Linked DNA regions of Homo sapiens: regions 2 and 3 are each linked to region 1. The links come from fine-mapping of genetic effects on gene expression. A gene starts in region 1. Each other region holds a variant in brackets. All regions are shown on one strand. Distances are between the middles of the regions.

Evidence for each region. PIP is the estimated chance that this variant, and not a neighbour inherited with it, causes the effect.
Region 2: its variant is fine-mapped to the expression of ERICH6-AS1 in lymphoblastoid cells (GTEx, PIP above 0.99).
Region 3: its variant is fine-mapped to the expression of ERICH6-AS1 in caudate (GTEx, PIP 0.97).

The regions. Positions count from the first base shown.
Region 1 is chr3:150,700,431-150,708,615 of GRCh38, forward strand. ERICH6-AS1 (ERICH6 antisense RNA 1) reads left to right here and starts at 3,134. Exons shown (of 3, transcript NR_121675.1): 1 at 3,134-3,237; 2 at 7,502-7,579. It overlaps ERICH6 (glutamate rich 6), which reads right to left and starts at 3,490. Exons shown (of 14, transcript NM_152394.5): 1 at 3,066-3,490; 2 at 1,691-1,748. The coding sequence starts at 3,468. RefSeq lists enhancers at 3,366-3,445, 3,596-3,685.
Region 2 is chr3:150,676,463-150,684,647 of GRCh38, forward strand. It overlaps ERICH6 (glutamate rich 6), which reads right to left. Exons shown (of 14, transcript NM_152394.5): 7 at 5,756-5,854; 8 at 4,311-4,468; 9 at 4,006-4,076; 10 at 1,947-2,092. Among named protein-coding and RNA genes, the nearest start is that of ERICH6-AS1, 23 kb to the right of the region's middle. The variant C/G (reference allele first, on the strand shown) is at 4,714.
Region 3 is chr3:150,995,176-151,003,360 of GRCh38, forward strand. The region is part of intron 1 of CLRN1-AS1 (CLRN1 antisense RNA 1); the gene reads left to right. Among named protein-coding and RNA genes, the nearest start is that of CLRN1, 27 kb to the left of the region's middle. The variant A/G (reference allele first, on the strand shown) is at 3,774.

The DNA of each region.
Region 1 (8,185 bases):
ATAAAAAATTCACCTGAGGAGTTTCTCCAGCAAAAGGAAAAGCAACAAAAGAAAGAAGACAATATGGGAACCAATAAAGTGTGGCTGGTGAGCCAACCCAGAAAAACTGTAGACAGAACAACAGAGAGTCAAAAAGTTTATTTTATTATTATTATTTTTTATTTATTTTTTGAGATGAAGTCTCACTCTATTGCCCAAGCTGGAGTGCAGTGGTATGATCTCGGCTCACTGCAACCTCCACCTCCTGGGTTCAAGCGATTCTCCTGCCTCAGCCTCCCAAGTAGCTGGGAATACAGGCACACGCCACCATGCCCGGCTAATTTTTGTATTTTTAGTAGAGACAGGGCTTCACTATGTTGGCCAGGCTGGTCTTGAACTCCTGACCTCGTGATCTGCCCACCTCAGCCTCCCAAAGTGCTGGGATTACAGGTGTGAGCCACTGCATCTGGCAAAAACTTTACTTTTTAAGAGACAAGTTTTATAGACATAGGATTATATTTTCTTGTCCATAGATTCAATCATATTACTGGTTTGTCAACATAGAAGTGTTAGTATTGTTTGTTGGTTTTCAATTTTTAGAAACAACCCCAGAGCACTTTAATTATAATTAACAAACCATAATACAAGCATAATAAAGCTTGGAAAAGTAATATAACTTTATGTAAATATACACTGCATTTTAATATAATTTATCATTTCATATAGTTTGTTGTTAATTGGGAAAAAAGAGGAGAGAAGAAAGATGGAAGGAGGAAGTGCATTAACATGTTAATTTTTCATTATAGTCAATAGATACTAAAATTGATGAATCAAGAAGTAGAGGTTTAAATACCTCGAAGTCCTAAATGTTAGAAAAACTAAAAATAATATAACTACCAAAGTGGAGAGGTGGGAATTCAATACACATGTCAGAAATTGATAAACCAAGAAATGAAAATGTCATTTTAAATAATGGAAACAAAACTGAAGGTGAGTGGGAGTGGGGGTGAAGAAGGGCATGAGATTTTCATTTTTATACCTTTGTGTAGTTTGATTTTTTTAACCACATGTATACATTATCTTTATTACAAATTGAATTAAAAGGATAACTAAAAACATGTAAGTGAGACAGAACAATTCTCCTTAGACTTAAGAATTCAAAAGTTGCTTACAAAAGCAAAGTTAGGGTAACTAATAATTCAAGATCATTGACTCAGGTTTGGTGTGAGATTTCAGGGAATATTTACAAAGATGTTCCAGAAGGCATTTCACTGGTATCTTCTTACTATAGTTAAAGTGCCTGAAGGCTAATAGCAATAACAAGAAAAAGAAGAGAGAGAGAGGAAAAAGGAAAAGCTATTATTTCCACTCTCTTCCACAAAAGGCGTCCCTGGTCACTCTTGCATTTAGCCAATAAAAGCTATATTCAAAATTCTCAAGCACTTACAATTGCACACATGGCATATATAGTTATTCTTTCATGTTACATTGATAAGTGGACATGTAATCTCTAGAGCTAGGTAATAAGCTGGGGATAAGTGGGAACCTTTATCTCTTTCAAAGTGTCTACCAGTGTATATTTAAAAAAAACTTTTTAAAATAAGTAAGTCACAAATGCCCTGGATTATTTTACTCTACTTCCTAACATGTTTATCCAAAAGGTAAACATTATTGGGTTCAAAAAATGTGAAATTTGAAAACATTTTCTTACCTATCTATACTCATTTCAGACATGTCTTTCCTAAATGTCTGAAATATTTTAGGGAAACCTGTTGAATGAAACATTTAAAAATCAGCTATTCCCTCTAAATCAAAAGGTCAATTCTACCCCCCCCAGGAACACATGGCAATGTCTGGAGACTTTTTTTTTTTTTTTTTTTTTTTTGAGACGGAGTCTCGCTCTGTCGCCTAGGCTGGAGTGCAATGGCGCGATCTTGGCTCACTGCAAGCTCCACCTCCCGGGTTCACGCTATTCTCCTGCCTCAGCCTCCCAAGTAGCTGGGACTACAGGCGCACGCCGCCACGCCCGGCTAATTTTTTGTATTTTTAGTAGAGACGGGGTTTCACCATGTTAGCCAGAATGGTCTCGATCTCCCGACCTCGTGATCTGCCCGCCTAGGCCTCCCAAAGTGCTGGGATCACAGGCGTGAGCCACCGCGCCCGGCCTGGAGACATTTTTGATCATCGCAAGGATGTGTGCTTCTAGCACAGCCACGGGTAGAGGACAGGGATGCTGCCAAATATCCTGTAATTCACAGGACAGTCCCCAATCCTCCCCAACAAAGAATTATCCAGACCAAAATGTCAACACTAGAGCTTGAGAAGCCTACTCTAGAAGACTTCTCTGCTTCTTTTTTCAAGGAAGTGACTGGAGTGGCTTCAGCACAGGATGTTAAACACAAAAGAGAGTTGTTTTTTTTTTTTGCAGGACTGTTTCAGTAGTACAGCACCCTTAAGGCACTTCTCTGGAAATAATATGAGTGTGTGTGTGTGTGTGTGTGTGTGTCTGTGAGAGAGAGAGAGAGGGAGAGAGAAAGAGAGGGGGAGGGGAGAGGGAGGGGAGGAAGAGGGAGGGGAGGGGGAACAGAGAGAGAGAGAGAGAGAGATGTCACGGTGTGAATGCACGCAAAAATGTTATAAAAATGAGCACTCCCAGCAGCCTGGGCAACATAGTGAGACGCCAGATTAGCTGGGTGTGGTGGCGTGTGCCTGTAGTTCCAGTTACTCGAGAGGCTGCGGTGGGAGGCTTGAGCCCAGGAGGTCGAGGCTGCAGCCACTGCACTCCAGCCTGGGCGACAGAGCGAGACTCTTGTCTAAAAAAAAAAAAGCACTTCATACAGCCATGCCCAAGTTCAACTTTTATGGTGTTTCGCCTATATCCTAAATCGTGCCTCATCACAACAGCTCAGCCAAGGGTTCAGTGTCTCTGACAAGGGCGTGAGAGAGATTAGGTGTGTGGAATGGTGCATGCATTTAGAAATCAGGCACGACGCGCAGGTCGACGAAGGCACCACCCAGGAGTGGGTGGACCAGGTGCCCCCTGGAGACGAGAAACCCTCGAGGAAGGGGTGGGTCGGGGGCGGTACTTTTATGCGAGGAGGTGCTGGAGGGTGGGCTTGCGCTCGGCGTTTCAGTGCTGGTCGCGCTCTGGCTGGGCACGAACGTAGAGGTCAGGCTAGGGCTGACGATGCTGGCTAAGCGGGGGCGCACGTCTGGGAAGTCGTCGTCGTAGTCACCGATGTCCGTGACCTTCCAGAGGTACTCTTCGCTGAACGTCTCAGGGGCCTCCAACTCCTGCTCTTCCCCCACCAACTCCTCCTCCACCACCTCCTCCTCCTCCTCCTCCACCTCTTCCTCCTCCTCCTCCACCTCTTCCTCCTCCTCCTCCACCTCTTCCTCCTCCTCCTCCTCCTCTAACTCCTCCTCTGACTCCTTCTGGTCCTTCTTCCCCGGGTCTCCGAAGCCGCTAGGCGAGCGCAAGTGGGCCATGGCTGGCGGGAGGCGGGATTACAGCCAGCTCTTTGGCCGCGGCCCCGGTCGGCTCTCGCGAGCGCGAGCCTCTGTTGTGCGTTGGTCTCCCCGGGCAACTGCTTGCCCTGCGCCACCGAGCCTCCCGGATTTAAAGCGGCAGGAGCTGGTTAGCCGGATAGAATGTGGGTGCCGAGGGCCGGTGGGGGCCACCGCAGACTTCTTTCTGTCCCTGCTCTTCAGCGTCTCTGAAACCCCTGGCAGCCTGCGGAGAAACGATCTTTTCTTCGTCTCTCAGCTTATTTGGGGCCTTTTTTTTTTTTTTTAACTTGGGTGGAGGAAGTGGCTTCTAGCGACGGACACACACGGTGCCATTTGGTATTGCGGATGCTGGAGTCTGGTTATTGAGTAGACAGATGCTTGCTGGAACGTCCAGTGAAACTTTATTTACAAAATCAGGCGCCAGCCCTTGGGCCCTCGTTTGCGGATATTTTTAAAATAGCTTTAAATATTAATAAGCGTATTAAAATTGCCTTAAATGTTAGTTATCTTAAATATTGTTAGATTAATATTAATTAATCTTGATTGGCGACATTTTTAGCGTCCCATAAATTTTGCTCCTTGCTGTGATCTGGGTCCTGCTTCTTACTTGGCCCATCTATCCATCCTGGAGTAGAAAAGTCCTGAAGCATCTGGCCACCTAGGTACCACCTGCGTCCTTCTGGGACTTTGTATTTACTTACATTTTTGTAAAATATATACATTTTTTATTTTTGAGAGACAGGATGTCACTCTGTCACCCAGGCTGGAGTGCAGTGGCGGCATCATGGTTCACTTCAGCCCTGAACTCTTGGGCTCCAGTGATCCTCCCACCTCGGTCTCCCAAGTGGCAAGGACAACAAATGTGTGTCACCACGCCTGGCCAATTTTATATATTATATTATATTATATTATATTATATTATATTATATTATATTATATTATATTTATTTTGAGACGGAGTCTCGCTCTGTCACCCAGGCTGGAGTGCAGTGGCACCATATCGGCTCCCTGCAACCTCAGCCTCCTGGGTTCAAGCAATTCTCCTGCCTCAGCCTCCCGAGTAGCTGGGACTACAGGCACGTGCCACCACGCCTGGCTAATTTTTTGCATTTTCAGTAGAGATGGGGTTTCACCGTGTTAGCCAGGATGGTCTCGATCTCCTGACCTCGTGATCTGCCTGCCTCAGCCTCCCAAAGTGCTGGGATTACAGGCGTGAGCCACAGTGCCTGGCCTGTATTATATTTATTTTGAGACAGGGTCTTACCCTGTCGCTCAGGCTGGAGTGCAGTGGTGCTATCTCAGCTCACCGCAACCTCCTCCTCCCGGCTCAAGCTGATCCTCCCGCCTCAGCCTCCCGAGTATCTGGGACTACTTTTTGTAGAGATGGCGTCTTGCTATGTTGCCCAGGCTGGTCTCAAACTCTCGGTCTCAAGCTCCTGGGCTCAAGAGATCCTCCCATCTGGGCCTCCCAAAGTTCTTAGGATTACAGACGTGAGCTACTGTGCCTGGCTAGGGAATATTTTTGAAAGTAGAGTTCTTGCAGGCTAAAGGAGCAGGCAGCACAGATGAGAGGAGACATCTGAGTTGCTTTAAAAGGAAGGGCAAAATGTGGTGACCAGAGAGGAAAGTGAAAAGCTTTCCAGCAGGCTCACGGCAGGAAAGGAGGGTCAGGACAGGGAACTATGTGTACAGATATTGAGGTACAAATAAGGTAAGTGTAATTTAAAAAGAGAAAATAAGAAAAAGCTCATTTCTTTTCTGGACAATACTAACAGTTTGATGCTGGAAGCTATCTTAGAAGTTAGGAAATTCAACCAGGGTCCTCAGAGAGCAGACTGGAAGTCAGGATGTGGGGATGAGACACGGGGCTGGCAGACAGCAAGGGTGACAGTGCTTGTGCTTACTCCGCTTGTGCCTGCTGTAGCTCAGTTCTGTGACTGCCCTGGCATTTTCTCAATTGTGTGGTGAATTAATTTGTTTAAGTACTCCTTGTTTAGACCCTCTATTTAAGACCTTTTTTGAACATTTTATGGAATCTCCTTCCCTTGGATCTACTTACTACGGAAAGAACAGTCCCTTATTTTCTCATGAGTTGATGCCACTCTTGTTTTGGCCGTTCAGAGATAATATGATGCTGGGTCAGTTTATATTTTCCCCTTCTCCATTCCTGGTGTCTAGCTTGACTCAGGAACTTGAGATTTGAGAACCAGGCACCAGCCCTGACTAACTGTGACTTTGGGGTTACTGAGCCTCAGTTTCTTGGTGTGTTAAATGGAAATATCAGTACCTTTCCACTTAATTTATGGGGCTATTTTGAGATAAAATTTAATTATTGTTTATTTTCTTCTTCTTTTTTTTTTTTCCTAAGATGGCATCTCAATGTGTTACCCAGGCTGGTCTTGAACTCCTGGACTCAATCCTCCTACCTTGGCCTCCCAAAGTGCTGGGATTATAGGTGTGAGTCATCCTGTCTGGCCTATTTTCTGAGGACTGATTTTGTATTTTATTATTATTATTTTAGGACCACATAACTCTGTTTAGAAAATGTTTCTAATGTATTGAGTGCTTCAAAGGTATATTAGTTCGATTTCACACTGCTATAAGGAATTGCCTGAGGCTGAGTAATATATAAAATAAACAGGTTTAATTGACTCAGTTCCATATAACTGGGGAGGCCGCAGGAAACTTACAATCATGGCTGAAGGTGAAGGGGAAGCAAGGCACATCTTACTTGTTGGCAGGAGAGAGAGAGTGCAGGGGAAACTGCCACTTTTTCTTTTTTTTTTTTGGAGACAGAGTCTCACTCTGTTGCCCAGGCTGGAGTGCAGTGGCGCAATCTTGGCTCACTGCAAGCTTGGCCTCCCGGGTTCACGTCATTCTCCTGCCTCAGCATCCCGAGTAGCTGGGACTACAGGCGCCCGCCACTACGCCTGGCTAATTTTTTGTATTTTTAGTAGAGACGAGGTTTCACGTGTTAGTCAGGATGGTCTCGATCTTCTGCCCTCAGGTAATCCACCCGCCTTGGCCTCCCAAAGTGCTGGGATTACAGGTGTGAGCCACCATGCCCAGCCAGAAACTGCCACTTTTAAACCATCAGATCTCATTGAGAACTCCCTCACTATCACGAGAACCGCATGAGGGAAACCACCCCCATGATCTGATCACCTCCCACCAGGTCCTGCCCTCAACATGTGGGGATTACAATTCAAGATGAGATTTGGGTCAGGAAACAGAGCCAAACCATATCAAGAGGTAATGGATTTTTAAAAAATTTCCTATCTCAAGTATATAATGTTATGTAATTGTTCCCTATTGTCATCATTTGATATTTTGTTTGCCTTTCTTTAATTTTGTTTTTAATTGGCACATCATAATTGTACATATTCATGGGATACAGTGTGATGTTTCAATATGTGATACATTGTGTGAAAATCAAATCAGGATATTTAGCATATCCATCATCTCTTACATTTATCGTTTGTATTAGTTCCTTCTCACACTGCTAATAAAGACATACTTGAGGCTGGGTAACTTATAAAGGAAAAAGCTTTAATTAGGCCTCAGGAGACTTACAATCATGGCAGAAGGGAAAGCAAACACATTCTTCTTCACATGATGGCAGGAAGGAGAAGTGCCGAGCAAAAGTGGGGAAAGCCCCTTATAAAACCATCGGATCTCGTAAGAACTCACTCACTATCATAAGAACAGCAGCATGGGGGTAATTGCCCCCACGATTCAATTACCTTCTATGGGTTTCTCCCACGACACGGGATTATGGGAACTACAATTCAAGATGAGATTTGGGTGGGGACACAGCCAAACTATATAATCATTTCTTTGTGATGAGAACATTCAAAATTATCTCTTCTAGCTATTTTGAAATATGTAATATTGTTAACCATAGTCAGCCTAGTGTGCAGTAGAATACCAGACTTTATTCCTCCTATCTAACTGTAACTTTGTACTCGTTGACCAATTTCTCTTTATTTTCTCTCCATCCTCCCCTCCGCAGCCTCTGGTAACCACTGTTCTACTCAATACTTCTATGAGGTGAACTTCTTTGGATTCCACATATGATCAAGATCATGAGGTATTTGTCTTTCTATAGCCTGGCTTATTTCACATTACATAATATCCTCCAGGTTCATCCACATTGTTGTATATGACAGGATTTCATTCCTTTTTATGGCTGAATAGTATTCCATTGTATCTATACACGACTTTTTCTTTGTTTGAGACAGATTCTTGCTCTATTGTCTAGGCTAGAGTGCAGTGGTGCAATCATGGCTCACTGCAGCCTCAAACTCCTAGGTTCAAGCGATTCTTCCACCTCAGCCTCCCCAGTAGCTAAGACTACAGGTGTGCACTATCATGCCTGGCTAATTTTTAGTTTTCTGTAGAGACAGAGTCTTGCTATTTTGCACAGGCTGGTCTTGAACTCCTGGCCTCAAGTGAGTCTCCCACCTTGGCCTCCCAAAGTTCTGGCAATACAGCTGTGAGCCACCATACTCTGGCAGATTATTATCATTATTATTATTTAGCTTTTGAGTATTCTGAGTTCCTCATATATTCTGAATATGAACCCCTTGTCAGATGTATGATTTGCAAATATTTTCTCCTGTTCTGCAACTTGTCTCTTCACTCCGTTGATTGTTTCCTTTGCTGTGCGGAAGCTTTTTAGTTTGAAATAATTCTA
Region 2 (8,185 bases), 24 kb before region 1:
TAGTTGTATTGTTAAGTTTTCTTGTGTTCTTGGTTATTTTTCACTGTGTGCTGGTAACTGAACTTGAAAAATAATTTGTAGGTGTGATTTGAAGGTGGAATTAGTGACCGTCCTCCAAAGATAGTTTGGATTTACTTCTGCCAGTCACCTGGGTTTACTGACAGCCCTTACATTCTTTTGGTTTGTTTGTTTGTTTTGAGATGGGGGTCTTGATCTGTCACCCAGGCTGGAGTGCATGATCATAGCTCACTGCTATCTCAAACCCCTCAGCTCAGGTGATTCTCCTGCCTCAACCTCCCAAGTAAGTGAGCCTACAGGCATGTGCTGCCATGCCCAGCTAATTAATTAAAAAAAAATTTTTTTTTTTTTGAGACAGAGTCCTGCTCTGTTGCCCAGGCTGGAGTGCAATGGCGCGATCTTGGCTCACTGCAACCTCTGTCTCCCAGGTTCAAGCAATTCTCTGCCTCAGCCTCCCAAGTAGCTGGGATTACGGGTGCCTGCCACCTTACCTGGCTAATTTTTGTATTTTAGTAGAGATGGGATTTCACCATGTTGCCCAGGCTGGTCTCGAACTCCTGAGCTCACACATTCCACCCATCTTGGCCTCCCAAAGTGCTAGGATTACAGGCGTGAGCCAACACACCCAGCCAAAAACATTTTTTTAGAGATGGGATTTTGCTATGTTGCTCAGGCTGGTTTCAAACTCCTGGCCTCAAATGATCCTCCCACCTTAGCCTCCTGAGTAGCTGGGATTACAGGTGCAAGCCAGTTTGCCTGGTTCACCCCTTAAATTCTATATCTCCCAAGTTAAACAAACCAGGTCTCAGTAATTTAATTACGAGAGGTCTATTCTGAGGGACTATACTTACATAGAAATGTACTTACATACACGGATATTTAAGGAAATGGTATTTAGTATAGCAAAAAAATTGTTAAGAATCAGTATGTCCGAGAACAGAAAAATGGGTTAAACTACATGATAAATTATATAGCTATGAAAATAATATTAATGTAAACTATATAATATCATGAAAAAAAAATTTTTTTTTTTTGAGACAGAGTTTTGCTCTGTCACCCAGGCTGGAGTGCAGTGGCACAATCTCGGTTCACTGCAACCTCCACCCCCAGGCTCAAGGGATCCTCCTGCCTCAGCCCCCCCAAGTGGCTGGGACTACAGGTGCATGTCAACATGCATGGCTAATTTTTCTTTATTTTGTAGAGATGGGGTTTTGTCTTGTTGTCCAGGCTGGTCTTGAATTCCTGGATTCCAGCAATCCGCCTGCTTTGGCTTCCCAAAGTGCTGGGATTAAAGGTGTGAGCCACTGTACCTGGTCTTGGAAAATTTGTTTTTATAATTAAGTTAAAAAAGAGATAAAAATTATATATATGATACAATTATAAGTATGTTAACAAAAACCCATGCAAGGAAAACCATCTAGAACAGTGCTAATATAACTTTTGATTACAAGAAAAATGTTCTATATCATCACTGCAGTACAGTAGCCATTAGTTACATGTAGCTGTCTAGGACTTGTGGAATGGCTAGCGTGACTGAGAAATTACACTCTTAATTTAATTTAAGTCTAAATAGCCAAATGTAGTATTGCTACCATATTGGGCAGTGCAAGTCTAGAAAATATTGAAATATTAATGTTTTGGGAGAAGTGATTGGGACTTTTGGTAATTTTCTTCCCTTCCTTTTAATTTTCTAAGGGTTCCAAATGTTCTCTAATATGCAACTCTTACATTTTAAAGTAAACAGCCTTTAACCCAAACATATGACATTGTTATAAAGTCTAGCAGAAGTTAAAAGACCAAGTCTGTACCAATTCTTTTTGACAACTAGTTAAATGCATCATGTAGCCAAGCTTCATGAAAGACTTTATAATTTTAGGTAAAACTGGTTTTTTTTAAAATAGCAAGTAAAAAAATTACAAGTTCATTACCTTTCCACATGCTATCCGAGAATCACAACAAATGATAGACATGTTACTGTTTCTTAGTTGAAAATCAAATACAATGTCATCAATTATCTGTTTTTCTGGAATATCCACAGAAAGTTGATAAGAAATTGTTTTTAAGCGCTTTGAATCTAGTGGGAAAAGAATCACATAGAAATACATATATGTTTTAAATTTTCTAAAGCCTCTTTTCTAAAATGAAATTTCAAACCCCAATATAAATGCACTGATTCATAAGACATTTTTATATTCAAATTTTTCATCATCTTTAAAAATTTTATTATTCCCCCTTGTCAAAAAATGAGAACATTCCTTTGTTAAAAGAAGAAAAATGAGACTGGGCACAGTGGCTCACACCTGTAATCCCAGAACTTTGGGAGGTCGAGGCGGGTGGATTACTTGAGGTCAGGAGTTTGAGACCAGCCTGACCAACATGGTGAAGCCCCATCTCTGCCAAAAATACAAACATTAACTGGGCGTGGTGGCGTGTGCCTGTAATCCCAGCTGCTTGTGAGGCTAAGGCAGGAAAATTGAACCGGGAGGCAGAGGTTGCAGTGAGCCAAGATTGTGCCACTGCATTACAGCCTGGGTGACAGAGCAAGACTCTGTCTCAAAAAAAAAAAAAAAAAAAAAAAGACAATTTTCATTAAGTGAAACTTTCTGGCCTTAGTTCTAGCAGAACTGATACTCTAACAGTTGGATATCAGGAAACTTTGTATTAGGGATTTAGTTACAAAAATAAATAAAAATATATCTTCTCTAAGTATCTTTTTTTTTGGCAGTTCAACTTTTATTTTTATTTATTTTTATTTTATTATTTCAATAGGTTTTTGGGGAACAGGTGGTGTTTGGTTACATGAATAAGTTCTCTAGTGGCAATTTCTGAGATTTAGGTGCACTTACTACCTGAGCAGTGATGTGAAGTCTTTTATCCCTCACTACCCTCCCACCCTTTCCCCCTGAATCCCTAAAGTCCATTGTATCATTCTTATGCTTTTGCGTCCTCATAGCTTAGCTCCCATCTAAGTATCTTTTCAGTAGCTCTGGGTGGTAGAGGAGGAGGCTTATGCCCAGAAAGATTAAGTCATTTACCCCGAATCAGACAGCCTGTAAGGAGAAAAGCAAGGATATAAATCCAGGACTTCTGATTCTAAACTCAGTGTTTCTTCAACTGTACCAGTACTACAGTGATACTGGTGAGCCAACTTATACGACAACTAATATATGAAGAAAATAAGCTGACTTTTTTTTTTTGAGACAGTTTTTCTTTTGTTGCCCAGGCTGGAGTCAATGGCACGATCCTGGCTTACTGCTACCTCTGTCTCCCAGGTTCAGGTGATTCTCCTGCCTCAGCCTCCCGAGTAGCTGAGATTACAGGCGCCTGCCACCATGCCCAGCTAATTTTTGTATTTTTAGTAGAGATGGGGTTTCACTATGTTGGCCAGGCTGATCTCGAACTCCTGACCTCAGGCGATCCACCCGCCTCAGCCTCCCAAAGTGCTGGGATCACAGGCGTGAGCCACCGCGCCCAGCCAAGTTGACTTATTTTTGACAGATTTTCCATATCCAAGCTTGAAAACAAAATGGAAAGTATGCTTAATAAAATATGAGACAATGAACTTGAAAGCTCTTTGCAGTTATCTGTAAAGTGCTCTGTAGGTGTTGCTAATTTATTTCAATGAATAATAACAATGAGATGAAGACTGAAAACTCCAAAAACCAGATGGCTGGAAACACTAGCTTTTCTGGGCCATTTTGACAGATGTAGGCTATACTGAACTTAGAAATAAAAATTTTTCAATACTACTACTTATTATTATTTTTCATAGAGACAGGATCTCACTATGTTACCCAGACTGGTCTCAAACTTCTGGGCTCAAGCGATTCTCCCACCTTGGCTTCCCAAAGTGTTGGGATTACAGGCGTGAGCCACTGCACCTGGCCAATACTATTTTTTAAATACACCCATTTCATCTTTTGGTTAAACATCTGAGCTTTCTGACGTTGTACAGCTGGTCTATAAGATCAGCACTAATGAACTCACCATCTTCAGAGAAATGAGTCTGTTCCCTTGATATTATTGCAAAATGTCTGGCCATTCGTTGCTCCTGTTTCCTACAAAATCAGAAAACATCAGGCATAAATCTGAAATGTGGTTGAAGCTTAAAACAGTCTACTACAAAATTCAGCTGCTTAAATGCCATCCTTGTCTGTTTGATCTGTTATTACTTGTGAATCTAGGAAATACATCTTCAAAGTTATATATCTTGAAAAAATGAGGTTCATTTACAAAACGAGCTCCGATTAAGCCGGCCTGTATGAGTTTCAGTATCGAAGTCTCAATGTTACCTTTGCAGGGCTTTTTCTTTTGCCTTGAGTCTGTCGACCTCACTACCATGGGCTGCATGAGGGTCAATAGCAATTAATTCAGCTTTAGGGGGTTTGGTTTTTATTTGCTCCTCATAGATATAGTCAATCAGATTTTGGAAAGCAATACAACAGGAGGCCTGGAAAACACAGAAGTTACTCTCATCTCATTAGTCCTAGATGAGGAGGATTAGAGGGGATAAAAATGACTAACAAGGTTTGGATAACAATCCATCATAAGTTTTTATTCTGGTAATAGCTTTATTAAGATATAATTCACATACCATACAATTCACCCATTTAAAAAGTACAATTCATTTGTTTTAGTATATTCACAGAGTTGTACAGTCATCATCACAATCAATTTTAGAATCTGAAACCTGTC[C/G]TCACTAACAGTCACTTCCTCTCCTTTCTTCTTCACAGCCCCTGGCAACCACTAATTTACATTCTGTCTCTCTAAATTTGCCTGTTCCGTACAGTTTATAAAGTGGAACCATACAACATGTGGCACTCTTTATGTCTGGCCTCTTTCACTTAGCATAATGTTTTCAGGATTTGTCCATATGGTGACATGTTTCAGTACTTCACATTTCTTTTTATGGCTGAATAATAGTTCGTGGTATGGATATACCACATTTTATTCATCCATTCATCCATTGATGGACAGTCGGGTTGTTTCTATATTTTGGCTATTACGAATCATGCTGCTGTCAACATTTTTGTACAAGTTTTTGTGTGGACATATGTTGCCATTTTCTTGGGTATAAACCTAGGAATAGAACTGATGGGTCATATGGTTACTGTATGTTGAACCTTTCAAGGAACTACTAGAGTGTTTTCCAAAGTGATGCACCATTTTATATTCCACCTCAGCAGTACATGTGGGTTCTAATTTCTCTACATCTTTATCAACACTTGTTATTATCTGTCTTTTAAATTATACCCATCCTAATGGGTGTGAAGTGGTATCCCACTGTGCTTGTGATTTGCGTTTCCCTGACAGCTAACACATAACTCTTTTTTTTTTTTTTTTTTTTTTTTGGAGACAGAGTCTCACTCTGTTGCCCAGGCTGGAGTGCAGTGGCACGATCTTGGCTCACTGCGACCTCCGTCTCCCGGGTTCAAGCAATTCTCCTGCCACAGCCTCCCAAGTAGCTGGGACTACAGGTGCACACCGCCATGCCCGGCTAATTTTTTGTATTTTAGTAGACACAGGGTTTCACCGTGTTGCCCAGGCTGGTCTCGAACTCCTGAGCTCAGGCAATCCACCCACCTCGGCCTCCCGAAGTGCTAGGATTACAGGTGTGAGCCATCAAGCCCGGCCTAACTCTTTTAAAAATGGCAATGCAGGGGAAAGATGCAAGAGAAAATACTACATATGTTTAAAGATAATACTATTTCCACAGTAAACCTGACTTAGAACTTACATGCCCTTTTGGTTCAGAGGAAACATCCACATTAGAAAAAAATGCTCTTAGATCGCTGCCACAAAATTCACATTTGGGTGATGTCTCCTCCTCTTCATCCTTCAGAGAGAGAGGAAAAAAATTAAAGAAGTCCCCACAAAGAGGCCCAGAGGCTCTGAGAGCAGCAGGAGCACGACCCTGGGCATGGTCAGTGAATGGAACAGCAGTGGTGATGAGATGTGCCAGTAAGTGATATCACTTCCATTTAAGGGCTGGTGAGGCTTCAGGAGCCTGAGGTGGTGTTTTGCAGGTCTCTGTCTGGTGCAATTCCCCAGAGCAGAGTTGAGCCTATCAGGAAGTGTGTGGTCTTCAGAATGCCTTCCTGGTATAAGAAGAAAGTTGCAGAAATGAATTCACTGTGGATACCAGAGTCCCTTGTTGGGGAGGGGAATGTGTAGTGTGTACCTAGATGCAAGAGATAAGGATAACACACACTGGATTTTATACAAATGATCTAAGTATTTGAACATCATTAACTCTTTCAAGAAATGCCAAGTAAGAAAAAGCCTTGACATTACTGTGTAGGCCAACATGTACAATGACCAACTTTCTAAAATAAATGAGAATCCTTTCTCTGGGGAGCCTAGGTTGGAGCTCTGAATTTTGTCTGTATTGTGAAGGTAATTCAGGACAGGGAGGAGGAGGGGACACAAAACAAGGGAGAGATTGGGAGTTAGGGGCTCAGCTGACTCAATGTGGAGTGGCCATGTCAATGACCTGAGGTCATGTCTGTGATTGCACAGGCTCCTGAGCAGGTGAGCAGCCAAGCCTCAGGACAGGCCTCCAGGAAGAGACCCAGATCATGACTTGCAGATCATTAACAACACCAGGGCATCTGTATATGCCATGGTAACCATTCTCTGAGACTGGCAAAAATGCCTGACATAGGGCTAAAAAGTGACTAAGGTGGCCAGTGCAGCCAGGGATTCACTACCCCAGAGTAATGTCCAACATATTTAGGCCACTGAAACTACCCAATAGTAAGTACTGCACATTGCTAAAAGCAGAATGCTTGGAGAGTGAAGTCTCGCACTAGAGAGATGATGGAGGAAAATCTAGGATAGCTATCAAATGATGGAGTAGGACAGAAAGAGAGCTGGGCAATACCAAGCCATTCACAACCTGCTCCATACAAGGGACTTGGTTGTGAACTTCTCAGCCCGTTGTCCTTTCACCCTCAGCTAGGGGTGAAGCAAGATGGAGATACTTCAAAAGACCATGAGGGAGGCCGGGCATGGTGGCTCACACCTGTAATCCCGCACTTTGGGAGGCCGAGGCAGGCCGATCACCTGAGGTCAGGAATTGGAGACCAGCCTGGTAAACCCTGTCTCTGCTAAAAATTCAAAAATTAGCCAGGCACGGTGGTGTGTGCCTGTAGTCCCAGCTACTAGGGAGGCTAAGGTAAGAGGATTGCTTGAACCCGGGAGGCAGAGGTTGCAGTGAGCTAAGATCATGCCACTGCACTCCAGCACTCCAGCTTGGGTGACAGAGTGAGACTCCATCTCAAAACAAAACAAAAACAAAAACACAAAGACCATGAGGGGAGTTTGGATCTTCACCTGAAGAGGGTGTGGCTAGAGAGAAGAGCTGGGCAAGCCAGCCACTGCTACCCCTGAACTAGATTGGCATCATCACTAGACCTGAAAGACCTGCTGAGGAGCAGGAGGAGCCAGCCTCGTCCAAGTGCCAGTTCAGGGACGTCTTGGGGGAGAAGCCGCAAGGCCTTCCCCATGGTAAGACCCATCTCTGGGTGTTGCGGGAGGCGAGTATAACCTCAGAGACATCCCTAGATACAAGCCTTTGTGGTGCAGAAAAAGGAAGGTGCTACATTTAAATAAAGAATTTCAGGGCTGGAAGTGATGGCTCATGCCTGTAATCCCAGAACTTTGGGAGGCCAGGGTAGGGATATTGCTTGAGCCCAGGAGTTCAGCCCACCCTGGGCAATATAGTGAGACCACATCTTTTCAATAAATAAATAAAAAAACAAAAGAATTTCAGCCCGAAGAGTCTGTTGAGTGACCGTAAAGTTTAGAAACCTGGGTAAATATAAAGAGTAAATGTTTATAGATATTATATTACATGATATACTTAATGTTTCCCCTCACTAGATTGCATAGCTCAAAGTGCTGTACAAAATAGCAATGAACACCACCTCAGTGCATCCATACGGCATTTCCATTCATCTCTACATGTGCATCCATGACATGTTGCCTTGCATGATTCGTGCCCCTTATTGTTAATGAATAAACCTCCACCTTTACTATGCCCAAGAAGAAGTCATCAAGGGTTCTCAGATCTGGGGAGTAAGCAGTTCTCTCCACATGGCCATGGCATCCAGCCCAGGTTTGGAAACAAGCATTCCACCAGTCAGTCCCTCACCACTCTAGCGGC
Region 3 (8,185 bases), 290 kb after region 1:
ACTTCATAGAGTAGCAGTGAGGATTCGATCAGATAATGTATGTAAAGTGCTTAGAACAATGCCTACGATACTAAACACATAATAAATGTTTAATAAATATTGATGATGGTGATGATGTTTCCTTGATGTTTTTTAGGGCACTTTTCTGCATAGGAGGAAAGTAAACTCTGAGGCTTCCTGTATTCTGTAATGATTAATAAAGTACTGTATCATTGTGTCATATAGAGCTATACAGGCATCGACAAATTCATTTGTTTGCAATGAATTAGACTTCAAAGACGGTGCAATGAACGAAGGCAATTTAAAGGATAGTTTGCGCCCTTTGGAAATGTAGATATTTTAACAAATAGGAACATATGAGTCATATAAACCTTAGAGTGAATGAATTAACTAGCTTTTTTCCTCAAAGCAGTGTTGATGGGAGGAAAAGAATTGGTGCTAAGAGCCTGAGGGGTGGTGGAAAAGGAAGGAAGAGTAATCTGCAAGACTGTCAGGTGTGAAGGGTGTGGGGACTGCAGCAATTCTTGCAAGGTCAGCAGAGTGGGCCAACTTTTTCAGTTGCTGGCTGACCTCAGCCAGGGATTAGGTTCTGTTCAAGGGCAACATTGCTGCAATATCAAGGGGCCATGCTCTGGTTGCTGAAAGCTCATGCCCAGGACTGCTGGCCTGGGTTCTGGCTGTCTGACCATTTACTCTTATTTTCTTTTTATATCTGTCATATTTTCTCAGTCAGCTAGGATTTTTGGTTGCAAGTAACAGAAACGCCAACCTAAACTGACTTAGGCATGAAGGGAATTGTTCGCGCTTATATAACTGAAAAGATCAGGGGTAGTGCTGGTGTCAGGGTTCAAAAGAAGTCATCCAGGTTCAGTATTACTCCACCTTTTCTCAGCCTTTCACTGTGTTCATTTCTACTTCAAACTTCATGGCTTGATGGTGACAGTAGCTTCAGACTCTTCATCCCCTCAGGTTCGAGGCACAGAGAAAGAGAGTCTGCCTTTGCTTCAGATATCTGAAGAAAAAGCTCCCTTGTGTCCCAGTGGCTCTGAAGGAGCCATGTGCCTATCTATGAAGAAATTACTGTGGCCAAGGGAAGCACAAGCTCTGATGAGCCATTCCTCAGTCTCATGCCACCCTCAATACAGAGGCTGGAGGCAATTCCATCAGAGCTACTTGGGCAGCAGATGGGGAAAGATTAGCTCTACAAACAGGAACCAGAGCTGGTTATCAGAAGTAGAATGAATGCTGGGGAGTATTTTTTTTTTTTTTGGTCCACTACCTCTTCCAGTATTTGTGTCTTTTTGATTCTGAAAACCCACCCTTGATGTTTCCATCCCCTCACCAACTGCGGCTATCAAAACAGTTAACCCCTGATGCTCAAGTTTATCCTCTCCAGCCCTGTCGAGAATCAATGAACACTTTGTCACCAGTATCAGAAACTTTCTTGTATGCTCTAGGTCCAGTGGTTTGAGACGATGACCAGGTCTAGTAAAAGCATTCTATTGAAGCCTACCTTCATAGCTTTCACTTTGGGGCCTAAGGTGCCTTCCTGATTTTCTCTGCTCCAGTTTTTCTGGGATGAGGGAAATGAATACCTAACCCAGTAATTCTCAAGCCTGGATTCAAATTAGAATCACTTGAAAAGCTTTTTAAAAATTCTCATTCCTCTAAGATCAGAAATAAGAAAATTTTTAAAATTCTCATTCCTCTAAGATCAGGATCAGGATCAAGGCAAGCACAGCTGCTCTTACTCCTTCTATTTAACATAGTACTGAAGTCCAAGCCAGAGCAATTGGACAAGAAAAAGATAGAAAGGTCATCCAAATAGGAAAGAAAGAAGTAAAATTAACTGTTCACAGATGATATGATTTCATATATAAAAACCCTAAAAATTCCATTCACACACAAAAAAGTCTGTTAGAACTAATAAATGAATTCAGCTAAGTTGCAGGATACAAAATCAACATGCAAAAATTGACTGCATTTCTGTACAACAACAATGTATAATCTGAAAAGAAAATTAAGAAAACAATTCTATTTATAATGGAATCAAAAAGAATAAAAATTCTCAGAAATAAACCTAACCAAAGACATGAAAGACTTGTATACTAAAAACAAATCATTGCTGAAAAAATTAAAGAAGACACAAATAAATGAAAAGACATCTCATGTTCATAGACTGGAGGACTTAATATTGTTAAGATGTCCATATTACTCAAAGCTATCTACAAATTCAATGCAATTCCTATCAAAATTCCCACAGCATTTTTTGCAGAAACAGAAAAATTCATCTGAAAATTCATATGGCATCTCCAGAGGCCCCACATTTTGAAAATAAACAAAATTAGAGGAATCACACTCTAAAGGACAGACACTTTGTAATATGTTATTTCAAAACATATCACAAAGTTACAGTACTCAAAACAATGTGAAATTGGCATAAAAACAGACATGTAGACTAATGGAATAGAATAGAGAGCTCAGAAATTAACCCTTGCATATCTAGGCAAAAGATGTCCAACAAGGGTGCATACCAAGTTCACAGCGGCACCACTATTCACTGTAGCCAAGAGATGGAAGCAACCTAAGTGTCCACTGACAGATAAATGGATAGACAAAATGTGGTATATACATACAATGGAATATCACTCAGCTTTTAAAAGGAAGGAAATTCTGTCACATGCTACAGCATGGACGAACCTTGAGGATATTATGCTAAGTGAAATAAGCCAGTGACAAAAGAGACAAATACTATACAATTCCACTTATACGAATATCTAAAGTAGTCAAATTCATAGAAACAGAAAGTAGAATGGTGCTTACCACGGGCTGAAAGGAGGGGGAAATGAGGAATTGTGGTTTAATGGGTATAGAGTTTCAGGTTTGCAAGATGAAAAAGTTCTGGAAATTTGTTTCACAACCATGTGAACTGTACAACTAAACCAAATTGCACTACTGAACTGTGCAATTAAAAATGGTGAAGATGGTAAGTTTTCTGTGTGGTATTTTTTTACCACACAAAAAAATACACATCCTGAGTCCAACATCAGATCGATTAAATCAGATGGAGTGGGGCTAGGGCTTCAATATTATTAAAAGCTTTCTGAATTATTTTATGGTAAAGTCAGGGTTGCAAGTGACTTAATCACTTAATCATGAATTGAATTTATTGACCAACTCTTCTTCCTTAGCTGACTACGGCAAGGGGTAGGCCCTTACCCTTTTGCACAGAGTAGAATGGAGTCCGTTTACTGAACACCTTCACTGAGAGCTGGATTGGGGTTCAGATTCTATATGGGTCACCAAATCAACCCAAATAGGTTAGAAGCAGGACATCAGTTCGCTCAGATTTCCATACACACCTTTTGTGTAATTTCTGGGCAGGCAAAAAAGAGGAGATCCCTAGTGTTGCTCAGGGTGAGGTCCCAGACACAGCGAGACCCTCCCTAAGGGATAGTTAGGAGAAAAAAGATGGCTGGCAGAGAGGAAAGAGAGAGACACTAGTAGCCCAGGGTGCTGCCAAGGAATGGAAAGCCACAGAGGGCAGCCGAAGGAAAGTGGCCACCTGAGACTAGATGGGTGGGGTAAGGACAGAGAGAAAAGTTCCAGAAGCCCGAAATGGAGAGCTGAAGGGAAAAAGAGAAACAATAACATTGTTTTTTGTTCTAGAACTAGGCCTATTTAGTTTGTTTTAAAATAAAAGCCGCTATAGTAGGGAAAACATCATTCCTTATTGGGGAGAGAATGCAGAGCAGATAGCAAAGTTTTCATGC[A/G]GGGAAGAATAATCAATATTCAAAATCTTACTTCTCAATACACAGATGGATTGAATTCAGGCTTCAGCATCATTTAATTAAATGGACTATTGTTTCTCTCTCACGAGTTTTAGTGAGAGCATTGCAAGTATGAGGAGAGCAGGATTAGGTTCTAATTGAAGCAGATCTATCTGCCTCAAAGCCGAGGAGTACTGTTTAAACAGACTGAGAAGACTTTTATTTAAACTTCATATTCAAAAGGGTGTGGGTGCACAGATGGGTACACGTTACCTCCTTGGTTTCTAGTTTTAGAAGCAGGGCAAAAACGTTGGGTGAGTTCAAAATTTTTTTTAAATTACAGCTGGGTTTCTTCATAAAGCATATTAGCTAGGTGGCATTGAAAGGGTAGTATGTAATTTGTGCTTCTGCAACACTTTCTTCCAGAAAATGCGTTTAGATTTTATTTTCATTTATAATGAAAACCAATATTTAAATGCCTGTTATGAAGTAGCAGGTCAGGAGTTTTAAATGCACTAAGATAATTCCTACAATAACACTATTATTCCCATTTTTACAGCTGATGAAACTGAGGCTCACAGAAATTTTACACATTTTTCAAGGTCACTTAGCTAATAAATAGCAGAGCTGGAATTCAAAGCCAGTTATTTATGGTCCCCAAACCAATATTCTTTTTATTAGGTATTTCAGATTTTGAAGGAGATGAAGCCAAGGTGTATAATTCCTTTGTTTCTATTTTCACAGAGTTAAACTTAAATAGCAAATATAAGTCTTATTCCTCAAACTCTGCAAACAAAATTAATTTCTTTCATTTTCATAAATCAATTTAATGATAATTTCAGGCCCCCACCCTGCTAAATTGTCTACTAATTGCTGAAATGCCCCACTGTCTCAGCCCAAGTGTTTCCTTGAAGTCTGAAGTCAGCTATTTCCACACTATGTTTTATCCTTGGTCATCCTTGGCATGCCATGGCGCCACCCTTGGGCCCAGCCACTGAGGTCTGTTCCAGTCCCTGGGACTTCATCTTGAGAAAAGTCTTCTTTGATCATACTTCCCCAGAAGGACTCCTCTCTCACCTCAAATTCTGATCCCAACAATGAGTTTAGGCTTTTGAAAGTAAAAGACAGGGCCGGGTGCGGCAGCTAACGCCTGTAATCCCAGCACTTTGGGAGGCCAAGGTGAGTGGATCATTTGAGGTCAGGAGTTCGAGACCAGCCTGGCCAACATGGTGAAACCCCGTCTCTACTAAAAATACAAAAATTAGCTGGGCGTGGTGGCGGACACCTGTAATCCCAACTACTTGGGAAGCTGCAGCAGGAGAATTGCTTGAACCTGGGGGGCGGAGATTGCAGTGAGCCAATATCGTGCCACTTCACTCCGTCCTGGGCAATAGAGCGAGACTCAGTCTCAAAAAAAACAAAACTAAACTAAACAAAAAACAAAAAAAAAGAAAAGAAAAGACAGGAGGAGGATAACAATAGCACCTACTTCAAAGGGTTGCTGTGAAGATTAAATGAGTTAATACCTATAAAATGCTTAGCACAATGCCAGATATAGTACATGCTAGTAAATATTTGCTATTATTACATTACTTTAGAATATACTTACATATATCTTTTTCTCAATTTTACTTTGGTGGCCTGCAAAATACATGATAAAATGTAGAATTTGTGATGATTTGCATATAAGTGGTGCTGGTATTGGTATATGCCCTCCAGGCACAGAAATTCTACTCTTCTACTTCACACAATTCTCATCAAAAAGGAGAAAAAAGTACAATGCTGTTACAATTGTATGCACTGAATTTTACAGTATATTATTGCCAAGAAAAAAACTTCCATATTGTCTAGTTATCAATGAGAATTCCACCCTCCCCTTACAATTTTACACATGCTATGATTAGAAGAATTCCACAGAGGCTAGCTTCCGGCTCGAGTTTTTCAAATCTCGTGTCTCCTCCATAGCCGTATGTCCAGAATTACGTGCTGTATCTCACTTTCGTACCCCAACCCCTGGCCGTGAAGCTTGGTTCCATGATGAATCAGCATAGTAGATAAAAGGAGTATTCCTGGACGCCGTTTCTACACTGGCGTGATTGAAAACCACCTAAAAATCTCTTACTAAACCCAACTTTAGTGTAATCCCACCTCAACATCCCATTAGCCATATCCAAAAAATTCCCACACTCAGTGCCACCTGACGGGAAGGGAAACGTAACAGCAGTGAAGTCTGATTGGAAAGAAACAGTAACCTTAATTAATTAAGGTAAACGTATCTTACATTTGCAAAATTTCCATAAGCACTATGTAAATTTATGGCTAGGGTCCCTCTGAGGTCCCTGAAAGGTATCTGTGCAATAGAGGGGCCTGAAGCTTCAGCTTAGTTGATTTCACAGTAAATCGCATCACAAGTATTAAGTGGGATGATTCATGTAAACGGCATAGGACTGTGCCTAGCACATCCAACAAATGTCAACCCTTGTCTGCAGTCGAGTAGTAGTAGGGCTAGTAGGCGTTATTTGTGTTGATTTTTGTCCACATGCCCTCTCCTCCTTGTCTGCCCATTCTTGGCCCTTCTGTAACCTGCTGTGCCTCAGGAAGCTGACCCCTGTGCTCTTTCTTACACAGACTTCCTTGCCCCTGGTGCTTTCCTGTGGCCAGTGAGAAGCATCAGCAAGAAACTGGTAGGTGGGAAGAAAGAGAGTTTGGGCTATTTATATTCGTTCCCCCCATCTCCATATGCTCTCCCTCCAATTTCCTCATGGTTCGGGCTCTGTCTGCACATAGCTGTAGCTCCTATTGGGTGGATTCTCTCCAAGGACTATAGATTGTGCTGGTTTTGATAACACAACCTCCACCCTTTGCTCTCTTCAGGCCTAAAAGTAGAACAGGCTTCCTCAGTCCCTGGAGGCCTCACCATCCTTTGTTTGTTCCCTTAACCTGTCCATACCTTTGTAACTAGTGGCTTAATTAAATCCCTTTCAATAAGTTGTTTTGAGTATGCTGTTTCCTGCAGAATCCCTGATTAATACATTGTTTGTTCTGACCCCAACTAGTATGCCCCATGGTCATCCCTTTTCTGTCTCCTGATATCCTGAGATAAAAGGTATTGCCTATTTTCTCCTTCTCAGAGTAAGTCATGAAAAATATGTACATAAAGTCATTTTCCCCTCCAGTAGTATGGCCATAAACTGTATGAAATCCATGTGTGACTTAGAGGAGAGCTCTGCTTGTTGATCTAACTGTTAATTTCCCCTGGGGGTAACATGTCCCTTGGAGTGCTTAGCCTGTCTTTAAAATTTTTACGTTTCCATATGTGTTTATGTAACCACTTAGTTCTGTCCTATGTAGCTCTAGGGATATGTGCTACACTCAATGGAAGTTGAATTGTCCTGTCATATTACATAAGATGAAAATCTGACTCCATTCAACTGCCAGAGCAATAGCCAGAGAAGACATTAAGTGAGAACTGATTTTTGGCCCGGAGATCCTTTTCCATTCATGAGTCCTCTAGGGTTTCTCCAAGGCTACACAGATGGTCATTCTTCAAAAGGAATACAGTTTTTTTCTCCCCTTAGGAAATACTTAATCTGGACATTAGAACTGTTTCTGAGAGTGGGGAGGAACACAGGAAAAACTCACCAGCACAATGTTTATTTTTAATAAGAGAAAGGGAAAGGAATGTGCAGATAGAGAACATTCTTATGTTTTCTTCTTCATACAGCTGCAGGTGAGATCTCCAGAGACTCTGACTTTAGAAGTGCACCAGACCAGGAATCTCTGTAACAATACTGCCTGTGAAGAGCATGGCTCAGGCCTTGTTTGATCTGATAGTCATGGCCACCCATGAAGGACTTGTATTTGCCGAGTATTCCAAAAAATATCTCGCATCTGACTCTATCCTAGGCTGAACTGTTAATCTGTTCTTTCATCCCTTCAATCAGTATTTGTTGAGTGCCCATAATGGAGGAGGCCTTGTTTGAAGTGCTAAAGATACAGCTGTGAATACGACAAAGTCCTTGCCCTCATGAGCTTACATTCTAGTAGGAGAGACAGAAAATAAACAAGTAGGTAATTAAATACATATAATACCTTATAATTTTAATTAGTGATAAGAGCTCTGAGGCAGTAATGCAGGGTAAATTTGTTGTAATCAATCAATATCTTATTAATGTTGGTATGCAGAAAAGAATGAACAATAGCAGGCCTGAGGCTGCAATGCTTAGACCGGCTGCTTGCAATGTTGACCCTTGGCTGGTATCTGGAAACTTGAATAGTAAACAGTTCCCTAGACTGACACAAAACTTTCCATAAGCGATAAGAATGGTTCACTGTAACTAAACTGTCTATGCAAACAGTATGGTTTCTGTCAAACACCTGCTTTCCTTCTGGGAGTCTGAAATTCAGTATGTGTT